Linked DNA regions of Homo sapiens: all the other regions are linked to region 1. The links come from fine-mapping of genetic effects on gene expression. A gene starts in region 1. Each other region holds a variant in brackets. All regions are shown on one strand. Distances are between the middles of the regions.

Region 1 (5,803 bases):
CCTTGCTTGGACATAGTTCTTAGAACATTTTGGTATTACAACTGAGAAGTTCATCACTGTGATCACCGATGAATACCTGAGAAAAGAAGTAAAGCAAGACTGCACTTGGGTACACGTTTAAGTTTTTCAAAAAGATGCATGTCATGAATTCTACAAACTAAAGATGGTGAAAGTGGGCTTGATCTACAGTCAAAATTTTAGAATAGAAATTATTGGCTGGGCGCGGTGGCTCACATCTGTAATCCCAGCACTTTGGGAGGCCGAGGCGGGCGGATCACCTGAGGTCAGGAGTTCGAGGTCAGCCTGGCCAACACGGTGAAACCCCATCTCTACTAAAGACACAAAAATTAGCCAGGTGTGGTGATGGGCGCCTGTAGTCCCAGCTACTCAGGAGGCTGAGGCAAGAGAATCGCTTGAACCCAGGAGGCGGAGGTTGCAGTGAGCCGAGATCGGGCCACTGCAATCCAGCCTGGGCTACAGAGCGAGGCTCCGTCTCAAAAATAGCAACAACAACAGCAAAAAGACATTGTTGAAGAAACAGTGTGTGAGGAACTGGGACATTAAGGAGTAGACCCTAAGACCTAGTAAGTATATGAAAAACAAGATATACCCTTCTTAGATAGGGAAACTTGATTGGCACAATGAAGAAAGGCATAAAACACCGACTATATAGATTTCAGCCAGGCTCCACAGGTTTCTCTTGCTACCTTTACAGAAAAAACAAAAAAAAACAAAATACAGAAATTCAAGCCGGATTCAAGAATAACTAAGATTAGATTGGAACAAAAACCTTACTCAAGATATAGTACTACTCCTTCTGTCCCTAATCCTTTCCCATATTTTAATTTATGACTTGGACAGGTACAAAAATAGGAGGCAAGTTTATTAAATTTGTGGATGACAATTTGTTGGGACAGTGAATAATGCTGATGGCTGAATAAGAATCCAAAAAGTCTTTGAAAAGCAAGCTAATGATGAAATTTAGCAGGGTAAGTAGAACTTGTATCAATACTCAGATACCTAAATGTAGAAGTTGAAGATGAAAGACAAATTGCTTTGTATAAAGCACTTAAAAGATTTCAGTTGACAGTAAATTTAACTAGACAAAACAGCAAGATGCCACAATTTTGAAACAGGACATTTAAAAAATTAAAATCTGTCCACAAACACGTGATTCCAGGATAGTGAAGAGATTAACAAAGAATGGATATATGAAGACAAGCTAAAAGGAACCACTTCCTCAGAGAAGGTCTGAGAAACTGGGCAGGAAACTATCTTCAAAGATCAGAACATCGGTCATCTGAAAGAAGAATGAAATTTTCTTGTTAAACTGGAGATTCCTGGGCCCACCACAGAAATTCTGATTCAGTAGGTCTGGGGTGGAGTGCACGCATCTGTTTTCTAGCAACCATCTAAATGGTTCTAAGGTAGGGGACTATGGTCCAACTCTGAGAAACATTACACTGTATGTTCTTTGCTTTGCAGGGAGAAGAAGCTATTAACGCATTCACTTAGAAATTCACCCGGCAAGAATATTTTAGAAGAGATTCAGATATCAACTAGCTAGCTTGTTGGACTTTGGGTCCTTTAAAGGTTAACTTCCAATCCAGAGATTCTATTACATTTATCATGTAAAAGTAGTAAGTTTCAAGCATTATACTTTAAATTAACAGTGAACTTATCTACCACCCAATAAGACCTGGTTTCTAGTCCCGATTCTACCACGTACTTACTGTGCAGCCCTGCGGCTATCATCGACCCACCTATCAAAGTTAGAAGGTTCCCCTACAGATGGCCCGTAGCACCCACCCCCCAACTCTAATATTATATGATTCAATGTCAAAATGGCATCTCACAAGGAAATATTTGAGCATAAACCATAAATTCAGGTGGTACATGAATGCTCAAAACAGACAGATGGGTAAAAGATTTCCCCAAACAATATGGACAGAAACTCAGATGCACCACCAGTGTCATTTTCTTCCATGAGAAATGTAACTAACTCAATTAGCCCTCTACTAGCCAAGAGATTTAAAGATGACCAGACTAAAATTTAAAGGTGATCAGCCTAACTCAGTAAACAGGCACTGAACACATGGGATTCAAGGAGAGCCAAGAGCACTGGATCGTGCACCAAGGACGCTCATCCCTGTTATTAAGTAACCAGGGGAGACTCCCGGATTTGCAAAAATGAAAAATGAGGGGGGAAGAGTGGCAGAGGCGGACTCCTGGCCATTCACGCGCGCTTGGGTGGGACGCCGGTGAACTCGGGGCACCCCGGCCGGCTCCGAGGGCACAGGGCACGTGCCGGGCAGGCTGTCCGGGCACCAGGTCTCACGGGGGCCCGGGGCTGCGCGCCGCGCCCGCGCTGGGAGAGGGCCCTGAGCCGGGGGGCTCACCTCCTGGTCCTCGTTGGCACTCATCGCGCCGGTCGCGGGGCGCCTCCTGAGCGGACGGCGTTCGCAACAACGAAGAGAAAGCGAAGGCAGCGGCCCAGAGGCCGGGCGTCCCCCTTTCGCGCCTCGGCTGTGGGGGCGGCACAGTCTTGGCACTGGCAGACGCCAACTGCGCGCGCCCCGAGCCTCGGCAGCGCCCAGCCGCCGGCAGTGGGCTGTGGGCTACGAGCCGGAGCCGCGGCTGGTGGGGCCTGGGAAGTGCAGCGTCTCCCTGACGCTTGGAGGAGCGGCGTAAAGTTCCGGGACAGCGATTGGTGTAGAGCGCGGTCACTCAGGCCCAGAAAGTGCTTCCTGTGCCGGGGGAGGTGGGTACAGGGAAGTCTCGCCTGTTGGAACTGGCTGTGGGGCTGCGGCGGTGGGGACGGGCCACGGCGTTCTGTGACATCCCCCCGCCTCCCCTCGTCTTCTCCCGGCTGGCGGCGACCGGCCTCAGCTGCAGCGGGCCCGGGGCGTGGGGCCTGGGTGAGTCCGGGCCCGGAGACCCGCGGGGCCAGGCGGGACCGCCGAGGAAGAGAGCTAGCTCTTAACAATGCTGGTTTGGGGGCCTGCGTTTTGCAATCCCATCGACGGGTGCAATCCTGGCACTTCTCTTTTAGACCCGAGGAAAGACGCACCCGTTTCTAGGGCCTCCCAGGTTTAAGACGGGGGAATAAGAGGAGGAAGATATCTGCCTTTAGGGACTGCAAGGTTATTTCTCTACCTTTCCTCACTGGAGCTACCAGAACAGATACTGGGACCATGGGGACGGTGTTTCTCCTACGTTGGATTGTTGCTTCTCATCTTTAACATCGAAACATCATTTCGTCCCCACACTGTCGTTCCTCTTTTGTTCGTTTTGTAGTTGAACATCTCTGAATCCCATTCTTAGCAGCCTTGTGTCCTAACACCCTGAACTTCCAGTTAGTTAAAAGAAAAAAAAAGTAACCACATTAGGTTTTGGGGTTTTTTTAGTTGCCAATTTGATTGGGTCACCTTTCTTATCTTTCACGCTAGTTTCCAGTTTACTTCCCTTGCATTACTTGATCTCCCATCCATTATTCACCTTCTATAGCTGCGCCTCCTTTCGTGTATAGTTTCGTTGGTTGCTCCATTGGATATCTGAAAATTTCTCCTTCCAGCCTGTCATTGAAATCCATTCGATCTGCGCCTGTGCGTTATCGGGGTTCTCATTCAAATTCCTTTGCTGCAGAATAAGCACGACCATTTCAGGTGACATAGGAGAATGTGGCAAGACTTTCTGATACAATTTTCGTGCAGCAATTTTGGGACACATTTCCCATAATTTAGATCTCTGCTGTCCAGTTCTGTAGCCAGTAGCTACATCAGGCATTTGAAATAGGCTAGTCTGAATTGAGATGTGCTGTGAGTGTGAAATACACACCAGATTTTGAAGACTCAGTACAAAAAAAGGTAAAATATGTCATTAATAACTTTTATATTATTGTCAGTATGATAATATTTTGGACATACTGTACTGCGTTAAATTGAATATTAAAATGAATTCCATCCACGTTTTACTTTTTAATATGACTGCTAGAAATTTTTAATTTATTTATGTGACTTGTATTTCTATTGGATGACAGTCATTTTTAGTTCCTCTTATTTCAACTCCATATTTAAAGACCACAGCTATGTCTTTTGGGCCTCTGGAGTTATTACAGGAAATGGCCTCTAGTCTAGACTCGTTCATATTAAGCAAAGGGGCCCGTATTGTATTTTGGTCACTTGTTTTTTGTTGTTGTTGTTGAGACGGAGTCTTGCTCTGTTGCCCAGGCTGGAGTGCAGTGGTGCGATCTCGGCTCACTGAAATCTCCGCCTCCCGGGTTCAAGCCATTCTCCTGCCTCAGCCTCCCGAGTAGCTGGGACTATAGGCACGCATCACCATGCCCGGCTAATTTTTGTATTTTTAGTAGAGACGGGGTTTCACCCTATTGGCCAGGCTGGTTTTGAACCGTTGACCTCGTGAATCGCCCGCCTTGGCCTCCCAAAGTGCTGGGATTACAGGCGTGAGCCGCTGTACCCAGCCTGGTCACCCCTTTTTAATTTTCATTCCTACATTACCCAGAACTAGACTGTTTCTTTCTCTGAACATGCAATCCTTTGCCCTCATAACTTAATCCTGTCCTAAAAATATTTAAACAATTCTAAAACAATCTGTTGTAGACATTTCTGGCAAGCTTTGCAAATCATTTATTGAATACCTGTTGTTCTTTCAGTATGTAAACATGAGAAGACTAATAGTCTTTCCTAAATTAACCTTTCAGTTGAAAATATTCCATGTTTTGGGGATTAGGTATTAGCCTAAGTGTGCCTCACTTTTCACAAAGATTGTGTTAGACTTCTCCATAATATACTGGTATACTGGTGTAGATTACCTTTTTTTTTTTTTTTTTTTTTTTTTGAGACGGAGTCTCCTCGCTCTGTCGCCCAGGCTGGAGTGCAGTGGCGCGATCTCCGCTCACTGCAAGCTCCGCCTCCCGGGTTCACGCCATTCTCCTGCCTCAGCCTCCCGAGTAGCTGGGACTACAGGCGCCCACCACCATACTCGGCTAATTTTTTGTGTTTTTAGTAGAGACGGGGTTTCACCATGTTAGCCAGGATGGTCTCGATCTCCTGACCTTGTGATCCGCCCGCCTCGGCCTCCCAAAGTGCTGGGATTACAGGCGTGAGCCACCGCGCCCGGCCAGATTACCTTTTAAAAGAGCCTCATGACACATTCTTTTTCAAATAAGATTATATTTAAAATGTAGTGATAATTTTGTTTGGAATAACTTTTTTTTTTTTTTTTTTTTTTGTGGCACAATCTTGCTCTGTCACCCAGGCTGGAGTGCAGTGGCACAATCATAGTTCACTGTAACTTTAAACACCTAGACTCAAGTGATCCTCCCATCTCAGCCTCCCAAGTGGCTGGGACTACAAGTGAGCACCACCATGCCCGGCTATTTTCTTTTTTATTTCTTTTAGAGACAGGATCTCACTATGTTTCCCAGGCCAGTCTTGAACTCCTGGCCTCAACAATCCTCTGGCCTTGTCCTCCAAAAGTGCTGGGATTATAGGCATGAGCCACTTGTGCCTTACCTGAATTCTCTGTAATATGCTGGTATAGATTATCTTTTAAAAGAACCTCATTTGGGAGGCCAAGGCTGGCAATCGCCTGAGGTCACGAGATCAAGACCATCCTGGCCAACATGGTGAAACCCTGTCCACTAAAATACAAAAAATTAGCTGGGTGTGGTGGTGCATGCCTGTAGTCCCAGCTACTAGGGAGGCTGAGGCAGGGGAATCACTTGAACCCGGGAGGTGGAGGTTGTAGTGAGCTGATATTGGGCCAGTGCACTCCAGCCTGG
Region 2 (5,803 bases), 25 kb before region 1:
CACGCCCATTCTAAAGCAAGCCAAAAATGTTTCACAAACAGTATCTACTCTCAGAACACGTATTGCATTCCGATCAATATATTCTATTCAACTGTTTTGTTCATTAAAAAAGATGTTGCTAAAAATCTACTACATTGATTTTTTTTTTCTTTTTTTGAGACAGAGTCTTACTCTGACGCCCAGGCTGGAGTGTAATAGCGCGATCTCAGCTCACTGCAACCTCCGTCTCCTGGGTTCAAGCGATTCTCCTGCCTCAGCCTCCCGAGTAGCTGGGATTACAGGCACCTGCCACCACGCCAGGCTAAGTTTTGTATTTTTAGTAGAGAAGGGGTTTCACCATGTTGGCCAGGCTGGTCTCGAACCTCTGACCTCAGGTGATCCACCTGCCTTGGCCTCCCAAAGTACTAGGATTACAGGTGTGAGCCACTGTGCCCAGCCCTAAATTGAATTTGTATCCACTACTAGGTTACAAACCAGCCTGCCTGAAACACACAGGTTTAGAAAATGTATTTTTCTCTGTTTTGATCATTTATGTATTAGAATAACAGCCAAGATTTTATAAACCGGAAAACATTTGATATTAATATTCAAGGACATCTGATTAGAACAAAGGTGACAAAGTATTTATTTTAAAAATAATCACCACCACTTATTGCCTACTCTTATAGTATTAGGCTCTTTACAAACATTTTCTCCAATCTCTTAAACAACCTTGTAATTTACGGTACTCTTGTTCCCATCAAGGGATGAACCCCAACCTCACAGAGGATGGCCAGAAGTAACAACACCCAAAGGAGATGACCGAGCAAGCAAGCCGATGGACTTGCCACAGCGCATGGTTGCCGGCAGTAGATAAGACTTGGTGGATCCGAGCGAGACAATTCATTACTCTCAGCACAGCACACGACAGCAGCTCAGCATGACAGAGCTTGGTCTCCTGACCCCAAGTCCCGTGGCACAGGCCAGGCTCTGCACCTTTGATAGCAAGTGGTAACAATCCAGTCTCCTCCCTATGGGACAAACAGTGGCCTGGCAGTCGTGCTGTGGTTGCCTCTACGACTAGCTACACAAATGGCTACACCCTGGTCAGAGCGTGGTGGGCCCTGCAGGTTGGCATAGTCTGCAAAGACACGCAGGGTCCCGGGGCCCGTGGTGGACTGACTCTCTCAATAATTCTCCACTTTATAGTGGAAAGACATTATTTTCTTTTTTTGTTTGTTTTTGAGACTGAGGCTTGCTCTGTTGCCCAGCCTGGAGTGCAGTGGCGCGACCTCGACTCACTGCAACCTCCGTCTCTTGGATTCAAGCGATTCTCTTGCCTCAGCCTCCCAAGTAGCTGGGATTACAGGCATCTGCCACCACGCCCAGCTAGTTTTTGTATTTTTAGTAGATACGGGGTTTCACCATGTTGGCTAGGCTGGTCTCGAACTCCTGATCTCAGGTGATCTGCCCGCCTCGGCTTCCCAAAGTGCTGAGATTATACAGGTGTGACTCACCTTGCCCGGCCGAAAGACATCATTTTCTTACATCTACACAAATAATGTGGCAGGGTATGCATTCTCGTACATCCCCCTTACTCTGATGCAAATGCTTTTCTTTGATCCCCTGTCTAATCCGGCTCCTTTGACCCAGGACATACCTGAAGATACTGATGAGTATGGGCAAGTAATGACACAAGACTTTATCCCTGTACATGGATCATTTCACACAGACAAGCACAGACGTGGAAACAATTTCTAGAAGTGGAATTTCTGGACCAAAGGCCTTTGTGATTTTGATGGATATTGCTGAATTGTCCTTTGTCAAGGTTGCATTAGCTTACACTCAAAACAACTTGTGAGAGAGAACCGGTTTCCTCACACCTTTGATATGTCACCAAGCTATTCAGTCTTCGCCAGTGTCACAGGAGAAAAACAGAATCTCCCTGCAGTTTTAGTTTCTCTTGTGATGAGGGTGTGTCCTTTTGTTTAACATAAATTTACATTTCCTTTTCTGAAACTGTCACATCTAAGAGTTTTTTATGTATAAGTATACTAAAAGTACTTTTTCTTAGTTTTATTTATGCAATTTTTTCCACGCACAATTTTTTACATTTATGTCATCAAATGTAACATTTTCTTTATGGCTTCAGAGTCTTGTGTCATACTTTGGGAAGGTTGTCTCATCCTGAAACTATTTTTAAAATCTCCATTTCTTTTCTTTTCTTTCTTTTTTTTTTTTTTTTTTTTTTTGAGACAGGGTGTTGCTCTGTTGTCCAGGCTGGAACACACGGGCATGATCACAGATTCACTACAGCCTTGACCTTCCCAGCTCAGGCGATCCTCCCACCTCAGCCACCTGAGTAGCTGGGACTACAGGCACATGCAACCACACCAGGCTAATTTTTAAAATTTTTCGTAGAGATGGAGGTCTCACTATGTTTCCCAGGCTGGTCTTAAACTACTATGCTGAAGCAATCCTCCCATCCTGGCCTCTCGAAATGCTGGGATTACAAATCCATTTTATTTTAAAAGTTTTTTTCATCTCTCTGAATTTACTGCGATGTTAAGAGTGAGATAGGAGTACCTTTCCTTTTTCCCCCAGTGGCTCTTTGGTTCTCCAATACCATACATTGAAGAAACTGCATATTAAATTTTCTCATATATATATATTTAGGTCTATTTCTGGGCTCTATTTTCTTTCATTGATCTGAGCAGGTATCAGCACAGTATCACTTTAATTCTTGCTGCTGGAAATGTTTGACTAAATTTTATTTTTATTTTTTTTGAGATGGAGTCTTGCTCTGTCGCCAGGCTGGAGTGCAGTGGTGTGACCTCGGCTCACTGCAATCTCCACCTCCCCGGTTTAAGCAATTCCCCTACCTCAGTCTCCCAAGTAG[T/C]TAGGACTACAGGTGTGTACGACCACACTCAGCTAATTTTTGTATTTTAGTAGAGACGGGGTTTCATTATTGTTGGCCAGGCTGGTCTTGATTTCCAGACCCAGTGATCCGCCCGCCTCGGCCTCCCAGAGTGCTGGGATTACAGGCTGAGCCACTGCGCTGGGCCATGTTTGACTAATTGAAAGAACTAAACTCACATCATCACTGTTTTTGAAAAAAAATTTTTTTTTTTTGTCTATTCTGGTATGCTTAGTTTTCCTTAAGAACTTTGGAGTCAGCTTTTCTTTCTTTTAAAAATCCAGTTGCAGTTTCACTGGGATTACCTTACTTATTTATAGGATTGCCTTATTTATAGGATCAGTTAAACAAAACTAGTATCATTATCAATTGATTTTTTTTCAATTGCTTAGGCTAAAATCCAATTTGGAGTTAGCTTCGATGCCTCTAGCTCTCCCACATCCTTCGTTGGATTCACCAGCAAGCCCGTCAGCAGTTCCTTCACTATATATCCAGAAACTGACCGCTTCTCACCCACTCCCACCTCCCACCCTTGTCAAGGAATCGTCATTCTTCACCCACTTCCTCAACAGCTTCCTAACTGGCCTTCCTGCCTTCCCTCTTGCTTGCCTATTCTCAACACACAAGTCAGATCCCCTCACTCCTCCGCTCAATACATACCCTCTGAAGGCTTTCCGCCTCACTCAGTAAAAAGCAGACTTGGAGCAGAGGAAACAGCCAGAACAAAGGCCACAGGCAGGATCATGTTGGGGAAGACGAGGGGAGGGCCAGAGCTAGCAGGAGTCTATGGCCTTAGAGACTAGTTCACGCTAAAAGTAGCCGAAACTAGTTACCCCCGCGGGGTGGAGATTGTGAGAGAAGGGAAAAAGATCTTTTTTTTACAAAATTAAAAGCCCTGCAGAACTACTTGCCTTCTAAAACTATCTACATGTATGACTTTGATAAAAATAAAAAATAAGAAATTTTAAAACACTGACATATAAAAAGAAAAATATAGAAACCAACGGAAAAATGTAACAGATGGTATTTGTCAGCATGCAGCGGGAGTTCAGCTTTCCTTCAGCAGATGGACGGACATTCTTATAACCAAAACTGCATGATTCCTCAGTTATCATGAGAATTTCAAACAAAAAAAACTAACATCTATCAATTTAAAATTTGTGAGATGCCCGTGGGAGGTAAAGAATATTTTGTTAGTGTAATTTATCAAGTGAAATGGCAAAGTGACAATGGTAGGTTTAGCGATCTTCAGAAAAACAGAAGGGGGAGGAAAAGGTTTGATAGTTTTTTTGTTTTTGTTTTTTGAGACGGAGTCTGTCTCTGTCACCCAGGCTGGAGTGCAGAGGCACAAACTCGGCTCACTGCAACCTCTGCCTCCTGGGTTCAAGCGATTCTCCTGCCTCAGCATCCTGAGTAGCTGGGACTGCAGGCCACCCAGCTAATTTTTTATTTTTAGTAGCGATGGGGTTTCACCATGTTGGCCAGGCTGGTCTCGAACTCCTGACCTCAGCTGATCCTCCCGCCTTGGCCTTCCAAAGTGCTGGGATTACAGGCATGAGCCACCACACCAGGCCAATAGTTTTGTGTTTTAAAAATAATCATACTGTTGCGTAGATATTTGAAAAAAGTGTGATTTTAGTAATACAAAGGATAGTGAAGAGAATATGAAAGCTAAAGTGTTGGCTTTCTGCGAAGAAGCCTCAGAGATGAAAATCTCCCGTAGGCTCCAGGGTCCAAATCTTCGTATGTTCCTTCACAGATGAGACTGACTGTAAGCAATGCAGAACACCTACTGCCCTCTGTAAAAACAAACATATGGCATGCAGCGTCTTCTTGCCGTAGGAGCAGGAGAATGAAGAGCCGGAGCAGTTAGGAGGAAAAGCTTCCTCCTTAGTCAATTCCACCGCCATGTTAAACACAAAGATTTTCCCCGATTGCTTTGTGTACTCTAAAAACTGCCCCAGTGTTAAACTTTTAAGGTTGATTTCTAATCACCCAATTATGAAGCAAAATATTTTAAATCTGCATCCCCCCCTCCACTCCCCAACAGTTTCCTTCTTTTCTAAGCTGGATTCTCTTTCACTAACAACAGAGCATAGACGTAGTTTGTTATTTAAAATATCAAGAATAGTTTCCCAACAGGCCAGACTTCGTGGCAGGCAGAGAAAAGGACCTATTATAGATCCAGAAGGCTGCAGCCAAACAGGCAAGATCACTTAAAACTTCCCAGGTGCCAGCAATAACAAACAGAAAACGGGCAGGGGTGGGGACGCTTCCTGCCTTACTGTATCACCACAATCAACCTATTACGACAATTTATTCTGGAAACTAGATTTATACAGGAAGCTCAGCAAGCAAAAATGGTATTCCTCTAGAAATGGGAAAGTTAAAATAATTTTCTTATTTTTGGTTCTCATTAGTGAGAAATTAAGGCTATTAAAATTACTTATTTATTCAGGCATTGCCTCTTAAAATGTTCTCAGCTCTTCATATAAGCAAAAATTATCATGCAAGAATTTTCATTATTACAAATTTACAAAGTCATTAAAGATCTCATTCTCAATCAAACACTTGCTCCTCTCCTCATATTGTGCAATGTAGCTTTACTTAATTGATCTTCAGGAATAATGCAAAAATCAATGATAAAAGTCCTTAGCCCTTTGAAAGGCACATTTTGTGCCTCTGAAAATTAACAATCTTCATATAAAAGTCGTTTCATCTTTCGCGTGCTCTGATCAGTGGCTTTCACACTTTTTTCATGACTCATTTTAATAAACTTTACATAGTGACTCAGTACCCATACATGCACACCCCAAACTAAAGTTTTCACAGGGAAAAAAAACCCTCTTACAACAGGTAGTGCATGCTGGTATTTTCTGTTCAATTCTATTGTCTCCCATTCCATTA
Region 3 (5,803 bases), 42 kb before region 1:
CATCAAGTAGAGATGTGTGTAAAGGATACTAATAGTCAGAGAAACACACATGGCCCTTATGCACATAAAAAGATGCTCAAATTCTCTAGTAGTCTAGTAGATTAGTGCAAAAAGAATGATGACAACATACCATATTTTACTCATTTGAAAGCTGATACTATCCTGTTTCAGTAAATGTATGGGTGAATGGTCTCTGCCTGTTGGTAGGAATCTAAAGGTATAGTTGTTTCTGTTTTTTTTTTTTTCCTTAGTTGCTCCAGAGCTAACTCCTCGGCAGTGCACCCAGAGTGAGTCTAAAAGTACAGTCTTCTGGGATGACAATTTGTCACCATCTAACAAAATGTCCCATGTCTTCGTACAGCAATTGTTCTTTGACTTAACAGAAATATTGACACATGCAGAAGAATACAAGTGCAGGAATATACCACATAACATGGTTTGCAATGGCTAATAATTAGAAACAATTTATAGAGAAATGGATAAATTACAGTTTATTTATAGTAAGGAAAACTATGTTTAAAAGATCTGACAGGGAAAGACCCTTAAGATATATTGTTTAAAAAAATAAGCAATGTGCACCCGGGATAATCCTAATGAACCCAAAGTAATCACAAGTGTACTTACAAGAAGGAGGCAGTGGAGTTAGGGTCAGAGAGAAGATGTAAGGATGGGCACAGAGGTCAGAGAGAGGCGAAGATGCTTTGAAGATTGAGGAAGGGGCCTTGAGTAAAGAAATGCAAAAGCCAGGAAAGGCAAGGAGACAAAATCTTCCCTGGAGCCTATACCTCTTTTGTTGTTGTTGATTTTCAAACAATTACGAACATACTGAAATTTTCAAGAATAGTAGGACTTTTTTTCCCTGAACCATGTGAGAGTAATGCTGACACAAAGCCCCATCATTCTGAATTCTTTAGTTTGTAATTCCTACAAACAAGGAGATTCTCCTACACAAGCAAACATACCACCAGCAAAATCAGGAAATTAACAATGAAATCTTCCTACCACCTACTCTACAGATTCCACCCCAGTTTCTCCAATTGCACCAGTCGTATCCTTTATAGTCAAAGGATCCAGGACAGGGTCTCCCGCTGCTTTCACTGGTCATGTCTCTACTCACTTTCAATCTAGAGGCTGTCTTCTCGCTGCCTTCTATCAGGTGGCAAATGATTCTGATTTGTCCGTTTCTGCTGAGATCAACTTGATTAAGGTGGTATTTGTCAGATTTCTCCACTGTGCATGACTAATGTTTTGGAATCAGTAAGGAAACGTGGGACTATTTAAATATCCCATTTCTTTCTTTGTTTCTTCTTTCTTTTCTTTCCTTTCCCTCCCTCCCCCTCTCTCTCTCTTTCTCTCTCTCTCTCTCTCTTTCTCTCTCTCTCTCTTTCTTTCTGATAGTCTTACTCACTTGCCCAGGCTGGAGTACAGTGGCGTGATCTCAGTTCACTGCAACCTCCACCTTCCAGGTTCAAGCAATCTTCCTTCCTCAGCCTCCCGAGTAGCTGGGATTACAGGTGCCCGCCACCACGCCCGGCTAATTTTTGTATTTTTAGTAGAGACTGGGTTTCGTCATGTTGGCCAGGCTGGTCTGGAACTCCTGACCTCAGGTGAACCGCCCACCTCGGCCTCCCAAAGTGCTAGGATGACAGGCGTGAACCACCGTGCCCAGCCTCAATATTCCATTTCTTATCAAACATTGACTCACTGATTTTAGCTTCCATTGATATTTTTGGATGATTTAATTATTGCCTTATTAATGACCAAACAGTGATTTTTCTAACTGCATCATTTTTTTCTCCATTTACTTGTTGCCACTTGCATTAGTGTCCTATTGTGTGTCATACTGTATTAGTGCTGCTATAACAAACTACCATAACCTTAGCGGGTTAAAACAACTTAAATGTATTATTTTGTAACTCTGGAGGCCAGACGTTCCCCATCGGTGTCACTAGGTTAAAATCAAGGCACTGGCAGGCCTGTGTTCCTCTTAAAGGCACCAGGGAAGAAGCCGTTCCCTTGCCTTCTAGCTTCTGGAGGACGCCTGCATTCCTGGGCTATGGCCCCCTCCTCTATCTTCAAGCCATCAGCATAGCACCTTCCCTCCTCTCTGACCTCTGCTTTCATCCGTTTATCCTCTCTCTGATTCTGCTCCTCATGGCTGCTTTGTGTAAGCGCCCTTGTGACCACATTGGGGACCTCCCCCCCATAATCCAGGATTATACACACTCATCTGCATTTAAATCTACATATTATACATAATATAGACACATATTTGTATAATATATTATATCTTTATTTATCTATATAATTTTTTTGAGACATGGTGTCATTCTGTCACCCAGGCTGGAATGCAGTGGCACGATCTTGGCTTACTGCAGCCTCAACCTCCTGGGCTCAAGCGATCCTCCCACCTTAGCCTCCCAAGTAGCTGGAACTACAGGTGTGCACCACCACACCTGGCTAATTCTTAATTTTTTTGTAAAGAAGGGACCTCACTGTGTTGCCCAGGCTGGTCTCAAACTCCTGGCCTTAAGTGATCCTCCGACCTTGGCCTCCCAAAATGTTGGGATTAAAGGCAGGTGTGAGCCACTGCACCCGACCCTTATCTATATATTCAAAACCATGAGTTTGCACCAATGCCTTTAATTCCAATCCAACACCATAAGGTTCAGATTAGTTGTCTTATCATTCACCCTGCAGCTCATTTCCAACAATGAAAAGCCTGACTCCCACCACTTTCAATATGTTTCACTATTGGACTAATCCCTCTTGTGTGTGTTCAGTCTCCCCTCCTGGCCAGACCCCTCCACTCTCCTCACACTACGCGGCCTGCCAGGTGAAAACAATACAGGGACTGCCACTAAGCCCTACTTTTTTTCTTTTATTTTTCTTTCTTTTTTTCCCCTCCCTCCTTCCTCTTTCTTTTCCCTCCCTTCCTC[C/T]CTCCCTCCTTTCCTTCCTTTCTTTTCTTTCTCTTTCTTTTTGTTCCTTCCTTCTTCTCTTTTTCTTTCTTTTCCTTCCTTCCTTCCTCTCTCTCTTTCTGTCTCCTTCCTTCCTTCCCTTCCTTCCCTCCCCTTCCCTCCCCTTCCTTCCTTCCTTTCTTCTTTCTTTCTTTCCTTCCTCTTTCTTTTTTTTCAAGGTCAGTCTGGCTCTGTCACCCAGGCTGGAGTACAGAGTGGCCTGATCTTGGCTCAAAGCAGCCTTGACCACCCTAGGCTCAAGCTATCCTCCTGCCTCAGCCTCCTGAGCAGCTGGGACCACAGGGCTGCACTACCACACCGGGATAATTTTTGTGTCTTTTGTAGAGACGGGGTTTCACCATGTTGCCTAGGTTGGTCTCGAACTCCTGAGCTCAAATGATCCACTCACCTTGGCCTCCCAAAGTGCTGGGATTACAGGCATGAGCCACTGGGCCCAGCCTGTTTTTTTCTTAAATACTACTACTTAGAACTAAATGTGAAATCATCCAAATATCATATTATCCTAAATTTGATTAAGATAATTACTGTTGGCTGGAAAAGGTAGTATTACATATGGCTTAATTCCTTTACTGTATAGTCCACAGAGATTGAGACTTTAATCTTCACATTGAGTGGAAAATAAGAGAGAATATGTTCAGATGACAGTAAAATAAAGTCAAATTAGACTTTCAGACAAAATTACATTAAATATATTTTGACATTGAAACAAGTGACCAAGTGCAGTTGAGGAATTTCTTTGACTCATGACATTTACAGTAAGAGTAAATATAGAGGCCGGGCACAGTGGCTCACGCCTGTAATCCCAGCACTTTGGGAGGCAGAGGTGGTTAGATCACAAGATCAGGAGATCCAGACCATCCTGACTAACACGGTGAAACCCCGTCTCTACTAAAAAATACAAAAAATTAGCCCGGCGTGGTGGCGGGCGCCTGTAGTCCCACCTACTCGGGAGGCTGAGGCAGGAGAATCACTTGAACCCGGGAGGCGGAGGTTCCGGTGAGCCGAGATCGCACCACTGCACACCAGCCTGGTGACACAGCGAGGCTCCATCTCAAAAAAAAAAAAAGAAAAAAAAGAAAAAGAAAAACTCAGCTGTTAAACATTTCTTGCTCAAATAACTTCTGTAAAATGCTTAATAGAATAAATAATCGTATCAGTCAGGGTTCTCTGGAGAAACAGAACCAATAAGAGATATATATGTATGTGTGTATGTATACATACACATACAAAGAGACAGCGAGAGAGATTTTAAAGAATTGCTCAAGTAATTGAGGAGGCCGGCAAGTCTGAAATCTCTAGGACAGGCCCACAGGTTGGAAATTCAGGCAGGAGTTGATGTTACCGTCTCGAGTCCGAAATCTGCAAAGCAGGCCAAGCCCTCCGGAAACTCACTCAGAGTTTCTGTGCTGCAGGCTCGAGGCAGAATTCCTTTTTTCTCGGGAAAGGCTCAGTCTCCGCTCTGAAAGCCTTCAGCTGATTGCATGAAGCTCACCCACATTCAAGAGGATAATCTACTTTACTCAGAGTCAGCTGATTGTACGTATCAATCACATCTACACAATACCTTCACAGCAACATCCAAGTTAGTGTTTAACCAAGCAGCTGGGCCCCACAGCCAAGCCAAGTTGAGACATAATGAACCATCACTGTCTCTGTAACTATCTGTTTTCAAAGAAACATTGATTTTCTTTCGCAATCACTTCCAGAAGTTTGACTTAGTATTTCCTACACACTGTTTAACTAACATTGAATTAACTCTTAGTTCCTAATAAAGGTTTGCTAACACATACATACAAATCTTATTAGAAAATTGATTTGCATGTGTTAGAAAACATATTTATTGCATTATTTTGGAACAGTTTTAGTTTTTGCATTATCTCTTCTGTGGTCATATATTGGATTTTCTTTGATGCTTTTCACTGATGACAGCTATTTGGGGGAAAACATAGATGATTTTTACAAAACGCGTCACTGAAAGGGTTTGGGCAGACAACAGTGCGTCTTTTGGTGCAGGCTGGCACTCACACGCAGAGATGCCGCAAGATCAGTCTCCACCCCTCAGACCTCTGCGGAGGGACGCTTGGGTCCGGCTAGTTGGACTAAGACAGCCCCGGACTGCAAGGAAAGGCCTCAAGGCCCCGCCCCCACTCATTTGGGTTCTCTTTTTAAAGGGCAAACCCGAGTGGCCTTGCCAGGGGGAACAAAATGTCTGCTTGGGCATCGGGCAGGCTGGGCTTAGGTGACAGCTGTTCAGGCAGTTCGCTGTCTGGAGAGCCTGTTGCCAGCACCTGTTGACCTTGTGAGAAGTTCCATTTGGGCACAGCCCCTCCTGCAGGGGGAGGGGGGAGGTTCTGGTCCCATTTAGATTGTTGCCAGGCAACCCATATCTTCAGGGTCAGACTGTCCTGTTTGTCTTTCCACAAAGTATACAGACAACCATAAACAAAGCATAGCTTAAGTAACATTTAGATTGTTGAGGGAACATAAAATAGGGCTTGTTTTTTCCGTCCCCCTCCCTCATCATTGCCCAAAGATGTTACTGATTTGAAATAATTTTTAGATGATCTGCGTGCAAGAAAAAACACAGGGACGGCCAGGCGCGGTGGCTCACGCCTGTAATCCCAGCGCTTTTGGAGGCGGAGGCGGGCGGATCACCTGAAGTCAGGAGTTCAAGACCGGCCTGGCCAACACGGTGAAACGCCGTCTCTACTATAAAATACAAAAATTAGCTGGGCATGGTGGCACGTGCCTGTAGTCCCAGCTACTTGGGAGGCTGAGGCAGGAGAATTTGCTTGAACCTGGGAGGCGGAGGTTGCAGTGAGCCG
Region 4 (5,803 bases), 34 kb before region 1:
GAGCCACTGCACTCCAGTCTGGGCAACGAGAGTGAAACTCCATTTCAGAAAAATAAAAAAAAGTGAATATATGGGAAAATACAACAAATACAACATTGAGGAATCTAGATGAAGAGTATTAGCAACCTCTTTGTACATTTTTTGCAATTGTTTGTGGTCTGAAATTACTTCAAAAATGAAATGAATAGAAGAAATAATCTTATGAAATCCATTACTATACTTGTGGGAGGCTTAAACCTCTGCATCCCAATTGTGAAACTTCATATGAGCAAATTCTTACAATTAAAACCTATAAAAGCTTTAATTTTTTCCAAAGGTTGTAGAGTTTCTCTTTTTGCCTGTTTAAAGTATGAAACTGTTTCCCTTTTATCCTTGACATTCAGAAAGCTCAGGGCTAAGTAGTATCTGTAGTTTCTAGCTAACTATAGTGACCATGGAGGACCCTATAGAAAACACTCTGTGGGCCGGGCACAGTGGCTCATGCCTGTAATCCCAGCACTTTGGGAGGCCGAGGTGGGTGGATCACCCGAGGTCAGGAGTTCAAGACCAGCCTGGCCAACATGGTGAAACCCTGTTTCTACTGAAAATACAAAATACTGTACATAAAACCCCACCAGGTGGCGACTCATGCTCCTGTCCCCACTTTACAGACGGACAAACTGAAGCACAGAGAAGTTAGGGAGCACACAAGCTCATCAGCTTAGAAAGCCGGAGAGCCAAGGGTGGAACCCACGCAGCCAGCACTGTTAACAAACTGGAACTGTGCGGCCATTCAAAGGTGAGAATTACAGAGGGAGGGAGCTCACTTCATGCTTGCAAGAAGATCTCAGCACAGAGTTGACCGAGGCAACAGTTAAACAGTCTTGAAAATAAATACGCGTCCACATTATATTGTTACAATTTTTTTTTTCTGAGGCAGCATCTTGCTCTGTTGCCCAGGCTCTAGTGTAGTAGTGTGATCTGGGCTCACTGTAGCCTCGACTTCCTCAGGCTCTAGTGATCCTCCCACCTCAGCCTCCTGGGTAGCTGAGATTACAGGCGCCTGCCACCACGCCCACTAAATTTTGTATTTTTAGTAGTAGTTTCGCCATGTTGGCCAGGCTGGTCTCGAACTCCTGGGCTCAAGCCATCCACCCACCTCAGCCTCCCAAAGTGCTGGGATTACAGATGTGCACCACCACCACGCCCGGCCTATTGCAACAATTTTAAAATTAGCATGTGGAAATATAAAATAAAATAATAATTTTTTATTTTATATTTTTCCTGAAATTTTTGTATAAATAATTGAAACGCATTACATTTATTTTTTGGAGTTTATTTATTTTTACAGAGTCTCACTGTCACCCATGCTGGAGTACAGTGGTGCGATCACAGCTCACTGCAACCTCTACCTCCCAGGTTCCAGTGATTCTCCTGCCTCAGCCTCCTGAGTAACTGGGATTACAGGTACACATCACCACGCCCATGTAATTTTTGTATTTTTAGTAGAGATGGGGTTTCACCATGTCGGCCAGGCTGGTCTCCAACTCCACCGTGCCCAGTCTTCCATATATTTACTTTACTGTTCTCCTTCTCTGTCTCTCTCCTAATGTATTTCTCTCTATATATACATGTACATATATATAGTAATCCCCCCTTATCGGCGATTTCACTTTCTGTGGATTTAGTTACCTGCATCCACCCACCTCGGCCTCCCAAAGTGATGGGATTACAGGTGTGAGCCACTGCGCCCGGCCCCCATTATATTTATTGATAATGCTCTCACATATGATACCAAAGAACTGGGTCAGGGAAGGGAGGACTTCCAGGCTAGAGAAATATTGTTAGGGAGTCACAGACGAGGCAAAGGTATGTGGGTGTATATGGGTGTGTGTGTGACTGAGGGTGAGTGTGAGTAAGTGTGAGTGAATGTGGGTGACTATGAGTCGCCCTAGGACAGGAGGGTGTTCTGGCCAGGGCGGGTCCCACCTGGTGCCCTAGGCTGCTGTGAAGGACTGTGTGGCCACTCCCGACCCTGAGCTGGAATAAGCAGGTAAGTCTTTGTCTGACTTGTTTTGATTAATCCAAGATGTTAAAGGAGTAGGAGAGCTGGCTGTTTCTCTCCATTACTGTTGTGTAGGGGAAAAAAAGACCAATATAGATATAGGATTCCCTCAGTATCCACAGAAGATTTGTTCCAGGACCCCTTCAGATACCAGAATCCAAGGATGCTCAAGTCCCTGATATAAAATGGCTTAGTATTTGCCTAGAACCATACACATCCTCCCGTATACTTTAAATCATCCCTAGATTCCTTATAATACCCAATACAATGTATTGCTATGTAAACAATTGTTATATTCTATTGGTTAGAGAATACTGACCCCCAAAAAATGTCTGTACATGTTCAGTACAGGCACGATTTTTTTTCGAGTGTTTTCGATCCACAGTTGGTTGAATCCAGCAATGCAGAACCCATGAACACGGAGGGCTGACTGTATATATATATATATATATATATATATACATATATGTATGTATGTATATATATACACACACACACAAGTTTAAAAACTGTCTGCAGAGGAGAGGCTGAATAGAGAAATGTGGTCTTTGGGCCAAACACTAGTACCCACCAATGATAATTAAAAAAAGCAGGAGTAGGCCGGGTGCAGTGGCTCATGCCTATAATCCTAGCACTTTGGGAGGCCAAGGCGGGTGGATTACCTGAGGTTAAGAGTTGGAGACCAGCCTGGCCAACATGGTCTCTACTAAAAATACAAAATGAGCTGGGCGTGGTGGCATGTGCCTGTAATCTCAGTTACTCGGGAGGCTGAGGCTGAGGCAGGAGAATTGCTTGAACCCAGGAGGTGGAGGTTGCGGTGAGCCAAGATCACGCCATTGCACTCCAGCCTGGGCGGCAGAGCAAAAACTCCATCTCAAAAAAAAAAGGAGTATTTACTAGCTGACCTGGATGTCTTACGTGCTACCCCAGGCTGGCCTGGCCCAGCTGGAGTCACAGGGGCGTAGGCAGGAGGCTGCCTGCCTGGAGCAGGAATAGGGGATGCAGAGGT[C/T]GGCTACAGGCACCTGGCACCCTTTTCTCAGCATGAATTGTACCTACCACCTGGCTACAAGTGTGGGTTCTTCCCATCAATCTAGCTCATAAAACCCTGTATTTTCCTTCATAAAATCTACTGTAAGTTGTAATTATAAGCAAATGTACTTCTACTTAACTTTTAACAGAACAGCTTGCACAGATCCCGCAAAGAAATTAACCAAAGAACCAAAGAAATTAACATCATGAACAGAGGCTGGGCACAGTCATGTTGAGGGTGACCAACTTGTCAGATCCGCCTTGGCCTCCCTAAAGTGCTAGGATTACGGGCACGAGCCACTGCACCCGTTTTATCACTGAAAGTCCTGTGTCCTGGGAAACCTCTCAGTAGCCTTACTATTGGGCGGTTTATCTTGGCTGCAGGATAACTGCTGGTACATACAGGCACCTTTGTACAAACTGGGAAAAGGAAACCCATCCTTTTGGCAGACCAACCAGGAAAAAGGTTTTCTTCGTCCACATTGAGACTGTCTCAAGCCTGGGCATACAGCTTGGTGATTCATGTGAGCCCCTTGAGCAAGTACAAACATACAGGATGGCCTTGCTTTGCCGGGATCACAAGCTTATGGTCCAGGGGTTGAATTCTAGCCCATGGCCATATTTTTTTAGGCCTGTTTTTTTGAATATTTTAAGTACAAATGTGTAAAATTCAGGAGAGTCTACATAAAAACACAACTTTTAGGCCAGGTGTGGTGGCTCATGCCTGTAATCCCAGCACTTTGGGAGGCCGAGGCAGGTGGATCACCTGAGGTCAGGAGTTCGAGACCAGCCTGGCCAACATAGCAAAACCCTGTCTCTACTAGTAATACAAAAACTAGCCAGGTGTGCTGGTGCACACCTGTAATCCCAGCTACTTTGGAGACCGAGGCAGGAGAATGGCTTGAACCTGGGAGGTGGAAGTTGCAGTGAGCTGAGATTGTGCCACTGCACTCCAGCCTGGGTGACAAGCGCGAAATTCCGTCTCCAAATAAATAAATAAAAATGAAAACATGACTTTCTGGCTACTGTTTAAAAGATCTAGTAATGCTCTACTTTTCTTCTTCCATGGCAATAACAGGCTGGAGTCACATAGCAGCGGCTAACTTTGAACTCCACAAATCACCATACTCCCCATTACCCCTGACTGTCACTGACTTGGAGGCTAAGTAGAAACTCATCATTCCTTAGTGCTTTGTGTTGTTTTTTTTCTCTAAACCGAACCTGCTTACATTTTGTGACAGCCCAGCCCCTGTAGGCTTTGTGGTTCTTGTCTGTTTGAGACAGGGTCTCGCTTTGTCACCCAGGCTGGAGTGCAGTGGTGTGATTATACCTCACTGCAGCCTCAAACTCCTGGGCTCAAGCGACCCTCCTGCTTCAGCCTCCTGAGTAGCTGGGACTATAGGTTGAGCCACTGTGCCCAGCTCCCTGTCGGTTTTTTAGCATTCAGTCCCTGCTACTATCTGACTCTCCATTGATCACAAGGTGAGACTGCAGCAAGTTCAAACCTTACAGCCTCTTGGCTTAAGCCAGAAAGCAAGAGCATCTTCCTTGGAGTCCTGCCAAATCTCATTGCATACTACTGGTTCTTAGTAAGTCCAGACCAAACCTTCCTTTGTTGTTGTTGTTGTTTTTGAGACAGAGTTTTGCTCTTGTTGCCCAGGCTGGAGTGCAATGGCGTGATCTCGGCTCACTGCAACCTCCATCTCCTGGGTTCAAGTGATTCTCTCCTGCCTCAGCCTCCCGAGTAGCTGGTGTTACAGGCAAGCACCACAACGCCTGGCTAATTTTGTATTTTTAGTAGAGACGCGGTTTCACCATGTTGGTTGGGCTGGTCTTGAACTCGACCTCAGGTGATCCACCCGCCTCGGCCTCCCAAAGTGCTGGGATTACAGGTGTGAGCCACTGCACCCGGCCCAGACCAAAACTTCCAACAGCACATGAATGTTGTATTTTTGCACTTCCATTTGTTTGCAATCTCAGATTTTTGATGCATGTCTTTAGGGTTCTGGTGGCTTGGAGGAAAGATCATGTATCTACTGTGTTTGTGTTTAGATTTCAGGGAGAGTAAGGCTTCTAGGAGGACATTGCTCCTGAGCCATATTTGGAGGAAGGTAAAGGACAAGAGGAGCGGGATGAGTATTTCAGATTGAGGACGTGGGCCAAGGGAGAACCAACCGCCCATGGCGAGGGAGAACAAGCTGCTCTGGGGCTCCTTACAACTTTCCCAGCTGTCTTTCTCCCCCTTTCTGTAGAGGCTGATGCTATTTGTGATGCCCATCTTCTATAAGCTGTCAGCCAGAAACACCTGCTGAAATAAAGGCCATCTGTTCTGAATGCTGAATGCGCGGTTGTTGGGATCTCCCAAGAAACACACACACAAAAATGAACTTACTCCAAGGAAGCCAGACTTGACATGGACCCTCTGGGGCTTTGACGGCCCTTGGCCTCCAGTGGACGTCCAGAATCAGGGAAGACATTGCTGTGGCCTTCTCGGTACACTATGGGCTCCCATCAGGTAGAGGTCGCGCTGTGTGAGCTGGTGTGTCCCTTTTGACTCAGGGAACATGCTTGCTTGTCTGCACTGCAGTGAGTCCCCAGTGAAATGAAATGGCAGGTCTTCAGAGGCATGAAAATGCCAGCTGTTGTGTGTCATGGAAAGACGCACCAGCCTGGGCAAGTCAGAGGCAACCCAGAATAAATGGATCCACTGTGAAATGGGATTAATACTGG

Which allele goes with the higher level. Positions count from the first base shown, and alleles are read on the strand shown. Sizes are in standard deviations (SD) of each study's normalised expression. Not every link is listed here.
For the expression in pancreatic islets of the gene that starts at base 2,656 in region 1, allele C in region 3 goes with a lower level than allele T (moderate effect, 0.69 SD a copy in PISA).

Evidence for each region. PIP is the estimated chance that this variant, and not a neighbour inherited with it, causes the effect.
Region 2: its variant is the best candidate, but not a certain one, in a credible set for the expression of RWDD4 in whole blood (INTERVAL, PIP 0.78).
Region 3: its variant is the best candidate, but not a certain one, in a credible set for the expression of RWDD4 in pancreatic islets (PISA, PIP 0.55).
Region 4: its variant is the best candidate, but not a certain one, in a credible set for the expression of RWDD4 in whole blood (INTERVAL, PIP 0.63).

The regions. Positions count from the first base shown.
Region 1 is chr4:183,656,530-183,662,332 of GRCh38, forward strand. It overlaps RWDD4 (RWD domain containing 4), which reads right to left and starts at 2,656. Exons shown (of 8, transcript NM_152682.4): 1 at 2,400-2,656. The coding sequence starts at 2,423. It overlaps TRAPPC11 (trafficking protein particle complex subunit 11), which reads left to right and starts at 2,764. Exons shown (of 30, transcript NM_021942.6): 1 at 2,764-2,918. RefSeq lists enhancers at 1,863-2,651, 2,566-2,695, 2,652-3,439 and silencers at 2,171-2,391, 2,206-2,415, 2,786-3,075.
Region 2 is chr4:183,631,979-183,637,781 of GRCh38, forward strand. No RefSeq gene overlaps it. Among named protein-coding and RNA genes, the nearest start is that of RWDD4, 24 kb to the right of the region's middle. The variant T/C (reference allele first, on the strand shown) is at 2,879.
Region 3 is chr4:183,614,278-183,620,080 of GRCh38, forward strand. No RefSeq gene overlaps it. Among named protein-coding and RNA genes, the nearest start is that of RWDD4, 42 kb to the right of the region's middle. The variant C/T (reference allele first, on the strand shown) is at 2,940.
Region 4 is chr4:183,622,837-183,628,639 of GRCh38, forward strand. No RefSeq gene overlaps it. Among named protein-coding and RNA genes, the nearest start is that of RWDD4, 33 kb to the right of the region's middle. The variant C/T (reference allele first, on the strand shown) is at 3,054.